3 linked regions of the Homo sapiens genome follow. The protein of the gene in region 1 purifies or fractionates together with the protein of each later gene. This does not show direct contact. Each region holds a gene or a part of one and is shown in the gene's direction. Other genes may lie near its edges.

Region 1 (7,025 bases):
TAGTCTAATTTTTTATTTTAATTAGCTTCTGTATTTTCCACATCTGTAGAATATTATTTTAATGAATGTTAATACATGTTAATTCATAGCATGCATCAGTCAAGATGGGTTAGATTATGCTGTGTTAACGAACAGCTCCCAAAATCTTCTGGTTTGTAGTGTTTTCTACTTATTTTGGTTTATATTTTTTTAACGTAACCAGCACAATGCCCAGTAAATCACAGGTACTCTGTAACTGTTTTTTTGAGACGGAGTCTCACTCTGTCACCCAGGCTGTAGTGCAGTGGTGTGATCTCCGCTCACTGCAAGCTCCGCCTCCCAGGTTCACACCATTCTCCTGCCTCAGCCTCCCGAGTAGCTGGGACTACAGGCACCCACCACCACGCCCAGCTAATTTTTGCTATTTTTAGTAGAGACGGGGTTTCACCGTGTTAGCCAGGATGGTCTCGATCTCCTGACCTCGTGATCTGCCCGCCTCGGCCTCCCAAAGTGCTGGGATTACAGATGTGAGCCACCGTGCCTGACCACTATTTTTATTATGTTTAGTAGTAGTGAGCTTATCATATAATTCTAAGTAGACAGTAATTCTGTGATTACATGATATACACTGGGAAGATACACTGTGGATGATGTAACTATGGTTTGAATGCACAACTGGCTGACAGGTATATTCAGAGATAATTTTTTATTGTATCACTGTTATTCTAAGATATACTGTGGGGTAAGAGTTATTTTAGTAGTTTCACTCAGAACTTAAATAGTATAGTAAAAAAATAACTAAATGTCATCAGAAAATTACTTAAAATTCTTTAAGCTTTTATTTCTTCACTGATAAGATGAGGATCGTAATATCTATACTGCTTAACTCACAGAACTAACTAAGATGATATATATAAAAGCATCAAAAGCATTTTACAGGCTATAAGATAATAAAGTGTAAGTTCTGTTACAGAGATCAACGCTTACTGTAAGAATTCTAAGTCATTACGGAAAAAGCTAGTTGTGTTCACTAGAGTTTGCATAAGAGTCCTGGACTGTGTAATGTATTTTACAAAATTTTCATTAAAATATTTATAGCTCAAGAAGCAAAATATCTACTATCAGAAAAATTCAGTGCTGTTGGATAGCTTATCCTCCATAGATAAAGAATAAGTCAGGTGTTACTGACATTATTTCTCATATGTCCAGAAACCTGAAGATATGTTAGCATTAAATTCATAAGAGATTAGTGCCATTTCTTTGTCATGTTCTTTTGAATAATGTCCAATATTCATCTTTGGGGTGTGGAGGATTTGGTACTGAAGAAAATATCAAATGTCAGTTAAAATGAAGACTCCAGAGGGTTGGTGATGAAGATGTTTAGTAGAATCTATTTCTCTAGAGCCTGGCACTGTTTCTGACACATATGTGGTGTTCAATATACATTTGTTAACTAAATAGCAAGATGTAACTTTTAAATCATGATTTTGATTTATGACTGTAAGGAGAAATTTCCTAAAATTATAAAAATTGTTGGAGTATTAAAAAATGGTTGAATTCAGGGCATAAATTTCTGAGTGACCCTTGTTTGAGTTTTGGTGTGTATTTTCAAAATGTTATGTTACTTTATAGTTGTGTATTCTGCTTTCTTAAGTGAAAGTAAGCTGTTATCCTGTTTTCTTTTAATTTATGTCAATCAGTCATTCAATAAGATCTCATTAATGCATTAAAATCTGTATGTAAGTTTCTTCAGTATATAAATTTAATGATTCTTGGGATTAGTCTCAGTTGCTTCAATATTTAAAAGTATAATTAATATTTTTTACCCCACTAAATTGGATCGAAATTATTTGATAGTGTCACACAGTCCTACAATGCAAAAACAGCTTAAACTACAAATGCCATAGATAGACAGACAGACAGATAGATATTCCTTTTTATTCATTTTAAGATTACATCAAAATAGTACAGAAGGTTTAACTGAATGTATCCATGTGGTCAAATACGCTAAAAGGAGTTTTGCAGGAGGAATCAGAATCTGTGTAAATGAAGGAAATAGAATCTGTAGAGTGCTGCCAAGTTATGGATATTAAAAACAGCGATTGTGGAATTTAATTCCTATATAAAATATTTAAAACCCAATTTATATAATAAAATCAAATCTATTAATTCATTTGCCTTTTTTAAAAAAAGCTTTTTTATATTGCTGGATGGAATTTTTTGACCCAGTGGTACTAAATGTGCATTATTTAACAAAAGCCAATACTGGCAGTAAAAGCAATTCTAAATAACCTTCCAAGACATTCTCAGAGGGTAGCAGTACCAGTAAGCACTGGAAAATTAGTTTTATTTTTAATTATGAATAAATTAGGGTCTTTAAAATATTTTGTTTAGTTCATATAATGTGATGATTCGGTTTTCCTTCTAAAGATACTTCATTGGGCTGATAGAATTGGAAAGAACTCTACCGGTTTATCTAACCCCTCCTGTTACCGAAGGAGGACACAGAGGTTCAGAGAAGAGTAAGATTCCTAAAAGCAGTTGATAGGCATAGTGCTATGACCTTTGAAGCAGTTTGTACACATGGGACAGTTTTAACATTGCAGATGTGTCATGTGGTTTTTCTTTGGGAGCAATTAGAGTAATTTTTAACCTGAAAATCATTGGAAACATTTTTTATTTCAAGAAGCTAATCTATTGTGCTAAGGTTTTCTTTTTCATCCCCCTTATTAGCCTGGGCATTTTGATAAATGTAACTAATATTATCTAGCACTTTTCAATTTCACAAACATATTTATATTTTACATTCTCACTTGAGTCTCAGAACCACCTTGTCAGATAAGGCAATACTACTCTTATCCCACAGATGAGGAGACTGAGGCTAAAGGAAATTTAATTGTTCAGATCATGTAGGTAAGCACAGTAGGAGGCAGAGCCACATTTGAACCCAGACCTTTCTACTCCAGAACCTTTGTCCCATCTCTGTCTAGTTTACATAGTTGGAAGTTGCTTTTTAAAAGTCAGATTGTTGGGCAAGGGAGGGGAAAAAATAAATAAATAAATAAAAGATCATTGTGATGACACATCACTATTTAAAGGAATTCTGTGGTCAGCCCTTTTGTTATAGGAAAAATGTCTTACTAGCTACCACGTGTTGAATGCCTGCTGTGGGCCAGGCAGTGTGGTAGGTGCTAACCCTCAGAATCTGCGAAGCGTTTTAGAAGGGAAGTTGTGCTGCTTATCTAGTAAGTAACTCACGTAGGATTGTTTGCCTCCAAAACCCCAACTTCCAGCTATACCCCAAATTCAGGTTTCCCTAAAGGAGAACACACTCATATGCTTATAGCAAAATCATTTTTTAATGTGCTCCTCATGAATTACATACATGGGTGTTGATATTTACACATCTAGATTTCCATTTATTGATGCAGTAATTGCAAAAATACTACTATTGGCTCAGAAGCTCATGAAATTTAAAAAAGAAAGCCAGGAAGGTAAATCAATCAATAGCTGTTTATACAAGTATAATTGCTGGATGGCAGCGTTGGTTTTTTTTCTTTGTAATTATTTATGTACACTTTTCACAAAATTTAAATAATCTATCTGACCCACTCAAATGAAAATATTTAAAAAGCATGTTCAAGCTTATGGCATTACAATCATATTCTTCTGAAACTTTATCTTACTTTCATAATGATTAGATTCAGTATATTTTTCAATGTATATGTGATTGTATTCTGGTGTTTGTTTGTTTTGTTTTTTTTTTGAGACAGAGTCTTACTCTGTCACCCAGGCTGGAGTGCAGTGACACAATACAGCTCACTGCAGCCTTGATCTCCCAGGATCAGGCGATTCTCCTATTTCAGCCTCTCAAGTAGCTAGGACTACGGTGCACAGCACCATTCCCGGCTAACTTTTTCATATTTTATTTGTAGAGACAGGGTTCTGCCATGTTGCCCAGGCTGGTCTCAAACTCCTGGGCTCAAGAAGTCTGCCCACCTTTGCCTCCCAAAATACTGGGATTACAGGTGTGAGCCACTGCACCCAGCCTGCTGGTTTGTTTTTAACAATATTTTGCTTTGAGTTTTTTTTTTTTTTTTAGAAGAAGAATCTCTGATACTATCATATTACCAAAACTGAACAAGTCTTCTCTTCAGGCCCCTCTTTTTATATGAATTTGTTTTGAAGAGTTTTTTTCATTGAGCTGGTTTTTTGTTTGTCATGGGTGTCCAGGAAGATGTCAGCTGTGTGAGCGATGGGTTGGTGGAGCACTCAGGTGGAGATGGAGAGGAGACCTGGGCACCTCCTGTGGCTGAGTCACAGTTCTCCACTGGTCCCCATGTCTCCTTTCAGGAGGAGAAGTGGGGCCTCCAGCCCTCCCAAGTTCTGATGTGGAAAAAAGCCGAGGGATTTCCACAGTGGAAATGTATTTGAGTTTTGAAGTTCCACCTAGTTCCTGGACCAGCCCCTCATGTTTCACATGGCGATTCTGTTGTCCTTTGTTTCAGCTAGAAAATAAACTTTGTTCAGTCTTGCCCCAAATGAGAAGTTCTAGGCAGCCAGGTATTTGGCAAGAGTATAAGAGTCCCACCAAGGTTTAAAGTATAAAGTTGAATTTCTAAGCAAGCCTAAAGAGTATGTGCAATACACATCTTCTGATTTTATGTTGTTACATGTCGTGAGGGGTTTGGTATCTTCAAGTAAAGGTTTTAAAGGAACCTGAACTAGACTCAAACTTGACCCTCTGATGCTAATCGAAAATACACAATCATCAAATGGCATTCTTACTCCATTTTTTAACTATTACATATCCCATTTTGACAAGTTATTCTTACCTTTTTTACATAGGTCGAACTGGAAGGTACACCCTTATAGAGAAATGGAGAGATACTGAAAGACACTTAGCACCTCATGAAAATCCTATCATATCCTTAAACAAATGGGGGCAGTATGCTAGTGATGTGCAGCTCATTCTACGACGAACTGGGCCGTCTCTCAGTGAGCGACCCACTTCAGACAGTGTGGCTCGAATTCCTGAAAGAACTTTATACAGGCAGAGTCTGCCCCCCTTAGCTAAACTGAGGCCTCAGATTGACAAATCAATCAAAAGGAGGGAACCGAAAAGGAAATCACTGACATTTACAGGAGGTGCCAAAGGATTAATGGACATTTTTGGAAAAGGTAAAGAAACTGAGTTTAAGCAAAAGGTGCTGAATAACTGCAAAACAACAGCAGATGAGTTGAAGAAGCTAATCCGTCTGCAGACAGAGAAGCTTCAATCCATTGAGAAACAGCTGGAATCTAATGAAATAGAAATAAGATTTTGGGAGCAAAAGTATAATTCCAACCTTGAAGAGGAAATTGTCCGTCTAGAGCAAAAGATCAAAAGAAACGATGTAGAAATTGAGGAGGAAGAATTCTGGGAAAATGAATTACAGATTGAACAGGAAAATGAAAAACAGCTGAAGGATCAACTTCAAGAAATAAGACAGAAAATAACAGAATGTGAAAACAAATTAAAGGACTATTTGGCACAGATCCGGACTATGGAAAGTGGTCTTGAAGCAGAAAAATTGCAACGGGAAGTTCAAGAGGCACAGGTCAATGAGGAAGAGGTTAAAGGAAAGATCGGTAAGGTCAAAGGGGAGATTGACATTCAAGGCCAGCAGAGTCTGAGGTTGGAAAATGGCATCAAAGCTGTGGAAAGATCTCTTGGACAAGCCACCAAACGCTTACAGGTAGGGACACTTTGATAAATAGAATGTTTGGCCCATGTAAAATAGTATCTTCTTGGAATCTCCTTTTCATCATTGTCAATTTTTCCTTATATTCAAAGAATTAGAAACCCAGCCTTGTTTAAAACTTTTGTCGAACTCTTGTGACTTACGACAGCTTAGATGGGAGCAGTAGCCTTGCGGATCCTTCTCCATGGAAGAGCCTTGTCTTACTGTGACAGTTGTAGCGTTAGATAATGGGATGGAATGGACACTAATGATGAGATAGTGAATCTCACCTTCTCCTTTCAGAGATAGGGAAACTAGAGCTGAAAGAGCTGTCCATGGATTGGTTGGCCAGGGATTGTTGTGGCTAGCTGACTGCTTATCTGTCACTTCTCCATTGTTGCCAGCCAATCCCAGCTTCTTTCCTGACACATAAACAGCCCCCGTCCCTTCTCCCCTCTCCACAGTACCCTCCTTTGCTTTCCTGAGAGAGGCACAAAGATTTCTGTCTGATTTTCCCCCTTTCTAGTTCACATACGAGAAGTTCTATTTTGCCACTTAAACCCTAATCACTCAACTTACATTTCTTGGATACCCATTCTTGAAAAGACCCTGTGATTATGTTGCGGAAGTTGCAAAGATGTATCAAACAGTCTGTATCAGATGGGACGAGAAAGAGACACAATTGATTACAATATGGCTACTTAAATTTAAATTAAGATTAAATAATAAGGCAGTTAAATTATTAAATAATTTAAAATTCTGTTTTTAGTCACACATGGTCACATTTCAAGTGCCCAGTAGCTGCTGTACGGGCCGTGCAGACACAGAACATTTCCACCATTGAAGGAGGTTCTGTTGGACTGTGCTGGTTTAGAGCTTACGATTCAAAGTGTAGTCCATGCCAGGCAGCTCCAGGGTACTACTTGTAAGAAATTCAGAATCTACATTGAAACAGGATGCCCAAGTAATACCTGTGTACAGTGAGGTTTGAGAAGAGCTGCTTTAGAACATCAACAGTTAGTTCCACAATCAGAGAAAGCTGAGGTTTTAGGAAGAACTGATGTGATCTCCTTTCTCCGTCATTATCTGTAGTAAGAGATAAAACTACCACCCAAATTTTGAAAATCAAGAATTTCTCATGCAGTAGAAGCTTGTCAGCCTCTAATTTGTCAGTATTTTACTATTGGGATTCATTTTGACATTTAAAAAAAGGTACAAGTGGAAGTTGTGTTGCTTTTGATATCACAGAAAACACTAACTTATCACAGTCATTACTAGCAAATCCCTCTACCCACTGAAAAGTGTCTGATAATCAAATATTGA
Region 2 (7,025 bases), on another chromosome or scaffold:
TATGGTCTTCTATCATTTGTGCACATTCCATGTTTCTTTTGCCTCTCTTCACAATATTTTGTACATTCTCATCCAAATTTTCGTTTGTTGCGGCTCAGAGATTACCCTTCCCATGATTGTTTTTCTGCTGCTTGACACAATCAACTCTTATTTCCTTTTTTATAGATAACACCTTTGCTGCAGATTAACTGTGGATTTGGGCCTATAGGCCAGCTCTATTCTCAGTTTTTTGGACTGTGATTTCGGGAAGAAGGAAAAGGGGGCCATGATGGTGCCCACTTGTGACTCTTTGTCTCACTGCAGATAGAAATGTACATCTTTTCTGCTGTTCTCTGGAGGGTGGGATAGTAAGTAGCTTTCACAATACCCATTCAGCAGGTTCCTTAGCAAAGGTGCCCTTTTATTCTGGGCATTTAAAGACAACAAATGGTAATGGAGAAATGGGCAAAGGAAGAACTGACAGGCTTTGTTGCTGAAAACAATCACTTGAGGTATACACACATGTATGTGCGTGAGGCAGGTGTGCTTGAGTGACATGACTGTGCCCAGATGACATGAGGAGTGAGTTAAAGAAAAGACATTTTTTGCGTTTCTGTAGAAAGATCTTAATTCGAGAAACAGTTGATAAGGTGCAGAATTTGGATGGAATAGCAAGGTGATAGAAAGTTAGTTTCTATTTTACATCAGAATATGGAGATTCCTATACTATCTGACTTTATGAACATTCTCAGTAATATAGCATTTCAAATGATTTTTGAAGAGCACAATTTTTAAAAAACATTTTTCTGCCAGAGAACTAAGTTCTAAAAGCTGGCATTAATTTCTGTCTATGTCAAAAGCCAAATGGATTAATAGTGGAATATCACATGAAACATACAATGTTTCACATCAGTGTTCTTAATGATAATAATGACTTAAGACTTGGTAAGAAAGCTGAAAAAGATTATTCCCATTCTGCAGTTGTTATAATAAATAAACTATCCCCTGGAGAATATGCTCTTCTTTAAAACAGGTTCAGAGTTCAGCAATCAGAAAATATTGCAACTTGATTAAAATTTTTCTTCATATATGCAGCCAGCTCCTTATCCTGATCTTTCAAGTAGGAAAAATATGAGAATTGTAAGCCTTGGTAAAATGTTATGGAAATGTAAAACTCAGTAAACACTGAAAAGGCAACTGAAGATTCAAATCAGAAAGTAACAATTAAGAACCTTCCAGAGTTGAAGCAAGTAAGCATAGTGAGTGATGAGACTTAGGTGTGTCCATAGAAAGAATATTCTTGTTTTCCATTTTTTCAAATGTAGCTTTTCCATGCTTATAAGTACTGATTGACAGAATAATTTTTTATTTCAGCAACCTCCAAATTTAAAGTCAAGGGGAACTATGATGTGTATTGATGTTGTTTTGTATTTTAAACATCAAAATTTACCGTACTTTATATTCTTGTAACAGATTTTATATTGAGGTAGTGCAGTTCATTCACACATAGTCATTATTTCGTACTCTGTAAATGTTTCAAGGGGCTGGGCACGTAAGCCCAATACTTTGGGAAGCCAAAGTGCGTGGATTGCTTGAGCCCAGGAGTCTGAAACCAGCCTGGCCAACATGGTGAAACCCCATCTCTAAAGAAATACAAAAATTTGCCCGGTTTGTTGACATGTTCCTGTAGTCCCAGCTACTCTGGAGGCTGCAGTGGGAGGATCACCTGAGCCTGGGGAGGTCAAAGGTGTAGTGAGTAGTGATTGTACCACCGCATTCCACCTTGGGTGACAGAGTGAGACTGTCTCAAAAAAACAAACAACAAAAACACTTGTTTTGAGCTACATGGACCAAAATAAAAAGTATATTGAATATTCATGTTTATAGAGCAAAGCATGTATATAAAGATACTTTTGTATCAAAGTATTTGATATATTTGATCTTTTTTTGCCCACAATACATTGGTTTTATTTGAGCTAAAATTGTTCTCTGGGAATATTTTATTTTATTTTATTTTTTGTTATGGGACAGAGTCTTGCTCTGTCGCCCAGGCTGGAGTGCAGTGGCATGGTCTCCACTCACTGCAAGGTCCACCTCCTAGGTTCACGCCATTCTCCTGCCTCAGCCTCCCAAGTAGCTGGGACTACAGGTGCCCGCCACCACGCCTGGCTAATTTTTTGTATTTTTAGTAGAGATGGGGTTTCACCATGTTAGCTAGGATGGTCTCGATCTCCTGACCTCGTGATCCACCTGCTTCGACCTCGTGATCCACCTGCGTCGGCCTCCCAAAGTGCTGGGATTATGGGCGTGAGCCACCACGCCCAGCCTGGGAATATTTTAAATCTAGTTTTTATGATGAGCAGGCTTAAGGCTTTATTTGGACTTTGATCATAAATGTATTTACTTTGCATAGTTAACATGACTATTACTCTGTATTTTTTCAGATTCTTATTTTGAGTTCTTCATTATATAAGTTTTAATTTTTTTTTTAACCCATTAGCAAGTTTATTGTAATTGAAGTGTTACTTGTCTTTAAAAACTATCAGGCCATCCTTTGAGATAGCACAAAGATGTCCTACCATAAAATGTTAACTTTACATATTTGTAAATTAGAAACATCACATTACTATGGGTCTAAAGATTTATAAATAGCATATTGCTTATTTTATGATGATCTAAAAAATTCACTTACAGATAGTGTACTCTCAAAATGTATTTTATCTAATTGAGACATCTGAGATTGCATGTTTATGCCCCAAATTCCTTGCATTCCAAATTTCCTTGAATTCCAAATTCCTTGGGTTGATTTTTATTCTTATTAGGACATTTTAAAAATTTGGTAGGATGCAGTCACCTACTTTTTTTGTGTTATTGAACATTCTGTAAAAGCACAATCTGTTTAAAGTATATATTCCTACATATCTGTGTACCACTGTATTTCTTATTCTTCAATTATAATTTGATAAGTCAAGCTTGAATGACTAAACAGATGCTGGAGAAATATTTCAAACGTGGGAAAAGAGGAGGAGAAATAGGTTGTAGGACTAGATGTGCCATTCAGTTTTTACTTGAAGAGCCTGTGCCACGTGTCTGTTATGTGGTTGGAGCAAGAGTTTGTGCTTGAACAAGCATCCTAGCCTTACTGATTTGGACATGACCAGTATAGAGATGGTGGAAATCTTGGTCATGGGCGGGATTGCTGAGGAGGAGGAGCTCAGAAGGCTGAGTGCTTCCTCTTCTGGAGTGTAGGCTTTCTTAATGATAGGCTGTCATCTTAATGCATTTTATTCAGTTCTACATTAAGCTTTCATTTCTTCCTCTGTTTTAAGGGAGGTGAACAATAATTTGTATATCCTAAATGTTTTTTATTTTAAAAAGTCTTCCTTCTATGCTTGGTGACTATGAAGTTAAATCTTAACTAATTAAACAAGATTACCTGAATAATATTTACCAGCTATATTATGTATGCTACAATATTGTGGAAAAGTTTTCTGTGATGTTGTATATCTCTACTTTGTCTCACAGATGTTGATGTTAGAATTCTTTAGAGGCTCTCTGAACCCATATACCTTTTTCTGCTGATTTTGTATGATCAGGATTTGTTATTTTTTGTGAATAAACACCATTAGTGAACATTAAATATATTGATAACTTCAGAATTTCCTCATAAAAAGGGAGATAAATGAATTATATTTATTTATTTTTACTCCCATTGTTACTGTTTTTCTTGTCGTTTAGAATATATGATTACACCAAAAAAATCCCGAACTCTAGAAATCTACTAGTCTTTAGTCCTTCCACTACATTTTCCCTCTATCTTTCTCAAATCTGATTTAAGTTTGGTTCAATATTGAATAATTGCTACATAAAAATATTAACAGCTGGTTCCAAGAATCTTCTGGAGTGGGTGCAGATGTAGTGTTTTCATGGATCTTGCTGTGGAACCTTCATGGAAATATTTTGCCTCTTATGATTAAGGAACTGCTCATTAGCAGTCTTTAAAAATAACTTTGAGAAAGAAACATTGGACTATAATGTGCTGTGCAATTTTGTTCCCTATTAGAAAGCAGAAGATGAGGATATTGTTCTTACACCTGATGGCACCAGGGAATTTCTGACATTTGAAGTCCCACTTAATGATTCAGGATCTGCAGGCCTTGGTGTCAGTGTCAAAGGTAACCGGTCAAAAGAGAACCACGCAGATTTGGGAATCTTTGTCAAGTCCATTATTAATGGAGGAGCAGCATCTAAAGTGAGTGTCAACTTTATCATGCGTATGCCTATTAACAAAAATTTTAATTTCAACCCTGTTCCTATTTTGGAAACATATACAGTTAACAGAAGTTTTCTCATTTCTTTATGGTACCCACATTCACATTTAAACAACTAGGTGTATCAGTGATGTGTCACGTGGGGATGGAGTCCATAACTTCAACCTTTCATTTTTTCTCTCACAGAACATACAACCCATTGACATGCTAGTTAAATGAAGTTAATCAATGCAAAGACTTGGCATAGGTCCTGTCACAGAATGGGCGTATAGTAGACGTTAATCTTTCCCCTCCCCTCCCCTGTTTGTGGGTCACTTACTCTATTTCTCAGCCTAGAGAAAATTTCCTGGCCATTTGTTAAGGGGACAGTTCTCTGCAACTGTCTAATAGCCTTGAGCTTTTACATGTCTTGGTTTCTAAATAACCTCTATGGGTGTTTCTGGAAGCAAGAAAGTAATCACTTTGTGTCCTTTGAATTAGTATGCTATTTTGGTAAACAGATTATGATAATGACTTGATTTACAAATGTATAAATGATTGAAATAGACACAGGCTACAATAGCTGCTTAGACGTTATTATGCCAGCGTTCAATTGGGCATAATCCATTAGGATTAAAGCTCCCCACTTTTTTTTTTTTTGCTTTGTTTTTATTTTATTTATTAACTAAAGGAAAAGCTACTTCTTTTATAGCAGTCTGTTTAATAGCACTTATTTTTACCTGTTTTCTTCCCAGGATGGAAGGCTTCGGGTGAATGATCAACTGATAGCAGTAAATGGAGAATCCCTGTTGGGCAAGACAAACCAAGATGCCATGGAAACCCTAAGAAGGTCTATGTCTACTGAAGGCAATAAACGAGGAATGATCCAGCTTATTGTTGCAAGGAGAATAAGCAAGTGCAATGAGGTAAGAAATGCAAAAAAGTGCTAGTATCTAAAATTGTAAATAAACTACATTTCTGTCCTAATTTTGGGCAAAGGGTATTAGGTTCCAGGACCTTACATCAAAAGACCATAAATTATCTTTGCTTATTGTAGTTTTATTATTTTGTAGGTGGATTGTGGTTTGTGTTCTTAATTCTTGTGATCAACATATTCCTAAGTGGACATTAATACTCCTATTGCCAACTCAGCAGGAAACACTGGGATCTCAAAAGCCCCTTTAGCTGAATTTTTTCTTGAAATCAGGGTCACATCTTCCTTCTCAGAGCCAACAGTTTCTCTTCTAGTTGGCAGAGTTATACCTGGGAGGTGAATCATGCAGAGAAACAGTTGCTTATTCATTTATTTAAAATGGGATGCCTCTTACAAAGCCCCTAGTAGGGAACAGTCTTTCCTTCCCTGTCCTTTCTTTTTTATTTGAGACAGGATCTCACTGTGTTGACCATGCTGGAGTTCAGTGTTGTGGTCACAGCTCGCTGCAGCCTCCATCTTCTGGGCTCAAGGGATTCTCCTGCCTCAGTCTGCCAAAGTCCTGGGATTACAGGCACGCGCCATAGCACCTGGCCCACAGTCTGGCTTTCTTAGATGATGGTGTTCTCTTGTGAGATTATCAATAGCATATACCTCCCTCTCTTTCCTCAGTCCCCATTTTCTCTTTCTCTATGGGATTGAGTCTGTTCTCTTAGAATGCCTCCTTTTTCAGTGATCTGTATTGTATTATACTCTGCTTGTTCTAAATGTATGTTGCAGTTTGGAATTAGGGGTGAGGAGGACACAGGGCATCCTCTCTTGAAAGGTAGGATCATCTATTTTCCCAAATATGGAAAAACATACTTTGTTGTATAATAGGACATTTGAAAGTTAAAAATAAATTATATGTTGCCTTGATAATATTGGAGCTTGAAAAAAGCTAAATTTCATGGATCCATTATAAATTATGTGCCAACTGTAGAAAATAGGTCAGACTTGCCCATGTGCAAAATGAGCTGTTGAAAATGTGAAGTTTTTCTTAAATCAATGTTCAGATTCCCACATTTTAAGATCAAATCAACTAAGATAAAATGATTAGCAAATAATACAAACTGAAAATTATACCTAAGTTGTTTAAGAGTTTTTCTTAATTTTTAAACTTCTGTTTAATAAACACATAAAGCACCGTTTTCAGGTTGCAGTGACCACTCATCTGAACCTATGATACAAGCATATTTTACAGAGAAAATATACTCTCGAGCTCAGTTGGTAGTCAATATAGAGGTGACGTATTCTGAAAGATCACTGACCACTGAATTATTTTGTTGTTTTTATTTGCCAAATGTAGAATGAGTTAACAGTAATCAACAAATTAATTGCGATATCAAGAGAACAACATAACCTTAACTAAAAAATCTCAGAGTGGAGAAGAGTGGGACATACAAACATTCATTTATGTAAGATAAATATAAAAGCTAATCCCTCACAGTAGGATGCTGGACTGATATTTTTTTCTCTTTTCCGTCCCTCCTGGACTGATTGAATAGTAGTTTTTACTCATTGCAAAATCATTAGCTGATCTTTTAACTTAAGTCCCACAAAGCACTATATGAAAACATCTCAACTGTAAGTTTACAAAACATATCATTCTCTTTTAGGCCTTTTTATTTTGGCCACCTGAATACTTTCCCATTACACAGGACAGTTTTCATTCCACAGATATTTATTGAGCATCTTATGTGTATCAGAAAATGTGTTAGATCCTGAGGACATAGCAGTGAATAAGACAGATGGCATGCATTCTACTGGACAACGTATCACCTTAGTCTTTTAGAGACCAATTAAAATTTTTAACACCTTCTCAA
Region 3 (7,798 bases), about 85 Mb from region 1:
AGTTACCTGGAAGGCTGAGGCGAGAGAATCACTTGGGCCTAGGAGGTCAAGGCTGCAGTGAGCCATGATATCACCACTGTAGTTTAGCCTGAGCAACAGGGCAAGACCCTGTCTCTAAAAAAAAAAGTGAAATAAGATCATGTTACTCCTCTACCTAAAACCCTGCAGTGACTTCCCATTAAGCTTAGAATAAAATCCGAACGTCTTCTTGTGGTTTAAAAGACCCTGAGTGGGCCGAGGCGGGCAGATCACCTGAGGTCAGGAGTTTGAGATTAGCCTGGCCAACATGGTGAAACCCTGTCTCTACTAAAAATACAAAAATTAGCCGGGGCATGGTGGCAGGCACCTGTAATCCCAGCTACTTGGGAGGCTGAGGCAGGAGAACCGCTTGAACCCGGGAGGTAGAGGTTACATGAGCCAAGGTCGTGCCATTGCACTCCAGCCTGGGCAACAAGAGAGAAAAAAAAACAAAAACCCTGAGTGATCTGGCCTCTGGCCACTTCTCCAATCCCCACCTTCTTCTTCTTTTTTTTTTTTTTTTTTGAGATAGAGTCTCTCTGTCACCCAGGCTGGAATGCAATGGCGCGATCTCGGCTCACTGTAGTCTCCACCTCCCGGGTTCAAACGATTCTCCTGCCTCAGCCTCCCAAGTAGCTTAGGATTACAGTCACCCGACACTACTCCCGGCTAAATTTCATATTTTTAACAGAGACGGTGTTTGACCATGTTGGCCAGGCTGGTCTCAAACTCCTGACCTCAAGTGATCTGCCTGCCTCGGCCTTCCAAAGTGCTAGGATTACAGGCGTGAGCCACCGCGCCCAGCCTTCCAACCCCCACTTCTGACACTCTTCTCCTACCTTTCACACTGTGCTCTAGCCACTCTGGCCTTTTTCCCATTCCTCCAACACTGGAAGATTGTTCCTGCCTCAGGGCCTTTGCACTTGGTGGTCCTTCTGTTGGGAATATTCTTCCCCTATGCCAATCCTTCCCATGACTTTCTCTTTTTCATCCTTCACATCTTGACTCAAATGTCAAATCCTCAGAGTCCTCCTATGTGGTCACATGACCCTTTCTAATTTTCTCACGAAATCGCCACTCTCTGAAATTATCCTCCTCAAATGGTTTATCTGTTCCCCTCTGTGTCTTTCTCTAGACTGGGAGCTCCATGAGGACAGGGACTAAGTCTGGCTTATTCACTGCTATGTCCCCAGCTTCTCACACAGTGCCTGACACCCAGTACGGCCTCGACAAACGTTGCCCAAAAGAATACAAGTGTCTGCCGGTAACACTACAGGATGCAGAGATAGAACTGTGGACGTTGTCAAAGAGCATTCACCCGTATTTTTTCCCCATGGTTCCCTCCTTTGTATAAAACCCCTGGAATATCCAGGGAGGTCTAGATTTGCAGGCAAACTTCATCACCAACACTCAACACTTCTTTCTTTTCTTTTTTTTTTTTTTTTGAGACGGAGTCTCATTCTGTCGCCCAGGCTGGAGTGCAGTGGCACGGTCTCAGCTCACTGCAACCTCCGCCTCCTGGGCTTAAGCGATTCTCATGCCTCAGCTTCTGGAGTAGCTGGGATTACAGGCACCCACCAGCACGCCCAGCTACTTTTTGTATTTTTAGTACAGATGGTGTTTCACTATATTGTCCAGGCTGGTCTCGAACTCCTGGCCTCAAATGATCCACCCACCTCGGCCTCCGAAAGTGCGTGAGCCACTGCGCCCAGCCACCAACACTTCTTCCAATCATCTCACCACAATCCTAATGCTCATTAAATTGGAAGGACGGAGAGAATAAAGTTCATCCCCAGCCTTCTAGAACAGAGTTCCAAATTGCTGGCCTAGGGCCAAATGTAACCCACAGATATGCTTTGTCTGCCTCACACTGTTTTAGAAGATTTTGAGTTCATGACCGACTTTTTAAAATTGGAACATTTAACATAAAAATCCATATGTTCAAGTTTTACCAAAAACTCAGAGGATCTGGCCACAAGTGGCCCCAGGGGACTGGAGCTGAGAAGTGGCCGCCCCCTTGGATGAAACGTGGGCTCAGTTTGCTCCAGTCCCTACCCAGAGGCTGAATTCTTTCGTATTATCAGCCAGGTCCCTTTAGGCACTGGGATCCCCCCTCAAAGCCTAAGTATCCTCAGAGACACTATTGAGTTTCCAATATTTGGCCACAGCCACTCTCTTCTAATCATCAGCTCCCCATCATCTTCAGCAGCCCCTAAGAAAGCTCTGTAGAGCCAGGAAAGACAGTTTGAAAAGTGCACTTTAATCCACTCTCCTCATTTGACAGATAGGCAAACTGAGGCCTAGAGAGGGGAAGGGACATTCCATTTATTAGGCTGTATCCTTTCTGACAGGATGCTTATATCAACTCATCTTTGGAAAGCCACTGGTGCTGATAATGGCAGAAAAAGGCGAATAGGGAATCAGTGCTTTCCTCCACCGGCTATTTGCTGGTTCCTGGGAGCTGTGAGGGCCCACCCTGGTGAGCTATGCCATGCTCAGGCTCAGAGCCAGCTAATCACTTAGGCATGTGCCAGCAGAACTGAACTCTGGAGGGGAGTTGCCCAGCAGAAAACAACCTGGGGACAGAGGCTCTCCCCATGTCCCAGCTCAGTCTGAAGTCCTCCTCCAGCCCTGATGATGTTGCAAGAGGTTAACACACCTGCCATTTTGCATGAGGAAAATTATGGCACTCGTATTGTGGGCAGAGACACAATTCAGTCATTCCACTGGGTTCCAAATTGATATGTGCCCAGTATGTGCCAGGGATGTGAACACTGCTGGGGGTTCACTGCCGGGTTTTACTGAATATGAACGAGGGCTGTGGTTTCAGGCTGTCCTGAGTTCCAGCCCTGACTCTGTAACTTCCTGGCTGTGTGACCTTCAGCAACCACCCTAGCCTCTCTGTGCCTCACTTTCTTCATCTGTAAATGGGGATGATAGGAATAGGACATAATTCCTAGGATTATCTTGGGGATTCAATGAGATCATTTTTTGGCACATACTAAGAAATGAACACAGTAGCATTTTTTTTCTTGTTTATTTTTCTCCACTGCACTTATCAGAAGCTGATATTTTTATTTGCATCTTTGCTTACCATCTGACTGACTAAATGACTCTCCATAGAAAAAAGCCTTGTCTGTCTTGATCACCCCTGCTTCCCTGTCTAGAACAATGCCTGGCACAGAGTGGGTACTCCATAAATATTTGTCTGCTGAATGAATTGCTGTCTTTCATATTTCTACCCTAAATGCCATTCCGATGATGCACCCTGCCCTGGAGTAGCCCAAAGTCCTGTGGACTCCAGCAAGAGCCCCCCCTGACCTCCATAGCCAGATGTTCACAGCAGCGCTGGGCACCAACTCCGAATGTCACCAACTGGGCTCATTGCCTTGGCCTGACAAATGGCACTTATGTGACTTCTGGTGGACAGAGCTGTAGCAGGGGAAAGTGAGTTAGTGCCTGAGGAAAGTGGATCGATAGGCTGAGTTCTGAAACTCAAGGGCCCTGCACCAGTAGCGAGGGGGCCCAAGTAAGGGGACATGGAGCCCGCACCCTGAGGACATTGCTTTGGAAGAGGATGCCTGGGTGGTGCAATTACCTCGTGGCATACTGAGATGGGGATTCGTGCATCCTGCACGCCTTGGGAAACAAAATGAATTTCTCGGAGAGAGGGGGCTTTGCAAAATGTAAAGCGCTGCAGGAAGCAACGTACATGGAAAGGTCAGGAAAGAGAGCCGATCTGTTTGCTGAGTGTGGGCTGTACTTCCAAACCCAGCCAAAGTCGACGCGCAGCCCCTGGAGGTGGCACAGTTTGGGGGCCCCTTGGATAGGAGTGCCCTCGGGGAGGCTGGGAAGCCAGAGAGGAATGGGCCAAAGTTTCTTCGGGTGTCTGCAGAACCCAGGACCGCCCGCGCAGCTTGCATCTTCTCTTCCCGCCCCCGGCCTGCACGCGTGAAATCTGCAAATTCCCCTTTTAACTGCTGCACGCGCTCGTTCAACTTTGCCCTGGCTAGAATCGGGATAACCGTCCCGATGATTACATAACTTTCCGAGTTCAGGGAAGATAAATCCAAGGGACAGAAATGATAAAATTTTCTTTGAGTATGGATTTTTTACCCCTAAAGTTACAGAAGTGCACAAAAAATATATATACAAATACCCATATACCCACCACTCACAATGAGTTAACTGTTACATTTTGACTTATCTGAAAGAGGGTTTTTTCTTTTTAGTTACCAAATAAACCTTTCTCTTGTCCCAAGTTCCAGTATATCTGAATCCAAAATAAGTCAACCTTCTTTTCTTTATTATTCTTTTCCATCCTCACCCCAGATTTATCTTAAAGGGTAAGTTCCAGGACCCCCGAAATCCCTCGGTGAGCTCCCACCTGTCCAGGTCTGCAAACATCTAGACTCAATGCACAAGATCCGGCGATGGCCGCAACCGGCGGTGTGCACAGCTGCATTTCCTCCCCCAGCCCCAACTCCCGCGTGCAACTTTGCAACTCTCGCTCGGGCCCGGCATTGGGGGCGGGCCTATTTACTCGGCCCGTTTGGCGGAAGGATCCCATGCGGGGACGCGGTTGCGCTCAGCCATCTGCGCCCCGCCCAGCGCCCGGGCCCCGCCCCCTCCAGCGCCCGGGCCCCGCCCCCTCCCGCGCCCCCTATGGCCCATAAAGAAGTCCCGGCCGGGCCGCTGCACTCCCCGCGCGCATCCGTGCGCCGCCCGAGGCTGTCTAAGGAGTCGGCGGCCATTTTGTTCTTCTCGTGGTTCCAGTGGGGAGAGAAGGAGGAAGTAGGGAGCGGGGTGGCAGGGGGGGGACCCGCCGCGGCTGCTGCCACCGCCGCCACCACCGCCTCTGCTCGTGGCGTGGGAAAGGAGGTGTGAGTCCCGGGCGCGAGCCGGCGGCGGCGCCGCTGCGGGAGGGTCGGCGGTGGGAAGGCGATGGCGGATTTAGATAAACTCAACATCGACAGCATTATCCAACGGCTGCTGGAAGGTAAGGGGGGCGGCGGGCGGCTGAAGGGGGAGGCGGGCCTGAGGGCGGCAGGCGGCCCCGGGGGCTCGAGGGAGGGGAGTTGGGAGGCCGGTTGGGCTTGCAGCACCGTGGGGAGTGAGCTCCTCGAGTTGGCCCACGGGCCGGGGACTGCAGCCGGAGGGAGGCCAGCCCGGGATTCCCAACTTGTCGCCAGCTGCGGACCCTCCAGGCTCCGCTCATTCATTGCACGAGGATGCAGGCTTCCTCCCGGCCGTGGAATTTGAAAACTCCGCTCCCCACCCCCACGTTTCCCGCCCCTACCCGTTTGCCCCCGCGCACTGGACGGGTCTTTGGAGCGATGGTTGGGGATCCCAGTCCAGCCTCCTGGACGACGTGTGCCGTGCTGTGCGAGATGGACTTTTCGGTGCTCGTCCTCTCGGAAGGCAGTTTGATGAGGGCATGAGTTCCGCCGGGTTTGGGGGCTCTTTTCCTGCTTGCTTTTATTTTTATTTTTCGTGGTTCTGGGGTCTTGGGGGGCCCATTTCTTGTTACTTGGTAACAAGCGTTCATGTCTCAAGAGGTGTGAGAACCTGTCTTCGCCTGCCCTCCAAATCCTTTTAAGTTGTTCTAATCTTGGAGAGGTCTCCGCGCTCTTTTCCTGAGCGTGCATCTGAAGAGGAAGCCAACGAGGCTGACGCTATCATTATCTTTCCAATGTGCCAGGCTCTGTCTTAAGCACTTTGCGTCCATGAATTATTACTGTAATCATAACTGACGCTTCTAAAGCGCTTACTGTGTGTCAGGCATTCTTTGAGCACTTAAGACAGATTTCATTTAATTCTCCCACCCATTGCAAGATATTTGCAATTTTTTTTGTTTTTGTTATTTTACAGAAGAAACTGAGATGAAGTCACTTAACCAAGGTCACACAGTTAGTGACAGTTGGATTTCAAATCCACATAGCCGGGAGCTAGAACCCTCTACAGACAACACTGTCACCTTATGTAGGAAGGAAGGTGGCCAGTGGTTAAGTAAAGGTTAATAGAAAGCTTTAAATTTCGGCTCATCTAAGACTTGTGAGGTGCCTGGCAATTGATTCATGTTGATGTGGGAGAGGGGCGAGGTTCAGCTTTTAAAGACGGAAGCTGAAATGAGCTGCTTTCAGATTCAAGGGCATGTCAACGGATGCTAACATCTTATCCAAGACTTTGTAAGAATTCAGTCATATCCCCTAACTTGGACACTTCATAATGGGAACTTGGCAGTTTCAACTGCTTTTTGCCTTTATACAGTCCTAAAATATTGTTGGACTATAAATGCTGTGAGTGGTGGAGTCGAGGGCATGAACAGTTGGACAGCTCTGGTGTTAGAATTTACAGATCTTTTAAAGTAAGTTATTAAAATGAAGCTCCTGAAAATATCTCGTCCTTTTCTTAATCTGTGCATTCTTTCCTTTTATGCTGTCTTTAAAAAAAAAACAACAAAAAAAACACTAAATGTCATTAAGGACCCCTGAAATGCTCTTGAAATGTTATTGCAGGTGAAAACCTTGTATTGTAGGTGAAAACCTTGTCATTCTTTTAATGCCAGGTATTTATATAAGAACCATACTTTTTCATACTAGTTAATATAGTTCTTTAATTTATTCGAGGCAGCAGTTGGTCAGAAACTGATTAAAATAGTTTGCTGTAAGAAAGGAACTTTTTGTTAAATATTTTCTTTCTAAATTTTAAAATTCTGCTTATCTCTGCAGGGATATGTGTGGCTTTATTTCTCTGAGGAAACAGGAAAAGTTGGAATTTGCATGGATTAGAAACATTAGAATTTTAAGATCATCTAAGGCTTGCTAATTTAAGTTCTGGTTTGCCCATAACTGCCTCTATTCATAAACAGCTTTTGTTAATTTTGATCTTTAAAATTGTAATAAGTACTTTGCCTGGTAAGTAATGATACATCTAAAATGAGATCATTGTTTCTTAATAGTTCCTCTTGTTATGTGGCACTTGAAAACCAGGTTTTCTTATATTTCATTTTTTGCTGAAATTAATAAAGCAGTGCATTTTAATGCCTTGGGAATAGGCTAACTGCAAAGTATACTTAAATTTCTTTTTTTCTCGTGGGTGTTAAATTGGCAGAGAAACAGTTGAAGATGATCCATTGAGGATATGTAGATATCTAAGTTAAATGATGTTGGTAATAAATTCTGTTTTACAATTTTTTATTTAAAAAAATTAAATTTAATAATTTAAAATAGAAATGAGAGTCTCACTGTGTTGCCCAGGCTGTTCTCAAACTCCTGGTTTCAAGCAGTCCTCGCACCTCGTCCTCCCCAGGTGCTGGGGTTATAGTCATGAGCCACCGTGCCCGGCCTAAATTTTATTCTTTTCATAATGCCCCCAAAACCTTTTTTTTCCCTAAATAAGATGTAAGTATATCTGAAAGTAGAGGGAATATGACTTGTGACTTTGGCCAGATTTTTTTACGTGTTTAGAATTGATCTTTTAAGCTTGCGAGCAGTATAACCTAGTTGAGAAGTAGCTGAGTAATAGTACTAAAAAGCTAACTGAAAAGTGAAGTCTTAAGAAAAACAGCATGTTGGTTTAGATCTTAGTCACTAACCTTTGCAGTTCTTTTCTTCTCTGAACTCTGAGTATTTCTGTAAGCGAGGCATCACCTCTGCAACCCACCATGGATGCTTTTATCCAAGCTCTGCCTTGCTGATGATAAAACTTAAGGTTGTTAACTCCTTAGTATAACTGATGTTAGTTATTTAAATAACTACACAGTAAAACGGCATTTTGA

The links.
Region 2: the proteins of RASSF8 (region 1) and PARD3 purify together in Homo sapiens (affinity purification with mass spectrometry; 6 studies listed by BioGRID and IntAct, with this or other methods). This does not show direct contact.
Region 3: the proteins of RASSF8 (region 1) and PPP1CC purify together in Homo sapiens (affinity purification with mass spectrometry; 5 studies listed by BioGRID and IntAct, with this or other methods). This does not show direct contact.

The regions. Positions count from the first base shown.
Region 1 is NC_000012.12:26,059,671-26,066,695, forward strand, and holds part of RASSF8 (ras association domain-containing protein 8), read left to right. Parts: intron 1-4,827; coding exon 4,828-5,717; intron 5,718-7,025.
Region 2 is NC_000010.11:34,357,277-34,364,301, reverse strand, and holds part of PARD3 (partitioning defective 3 homolog), read left to right. Parts: intron 1-4,042; coding exon 4,043-4,231; intron 4,232-4,984; coding exon 4,985-5,155; intron 5,156-7,025. UniProt on the Homo sapiens protein: Adapter protein involved in asymmetrical cell division and cell polarization processes. Seems to play a central role in the formation of epithelial tight junctions. Targets the phosphatase PTEN to cell junctions.
Region 3 is NC_000012.12:110,739,872-110,747,669, reverse strand, and holds the start of PPP1CC (serine/threonine-protein phosphatase PP1-gamma catalytic subunit), read left to right. Parts: upstream 1-4,778; 5' UTR 4,779-4,962; coding exon 4,963-5,017; intron 5,018-7,798. UniProt on the Homo sapiens protein: Protein phosphatase that associates with over 200 regulatory proteins to form highly specific holoenzymes which dephosphorylate hundreds of biological targets.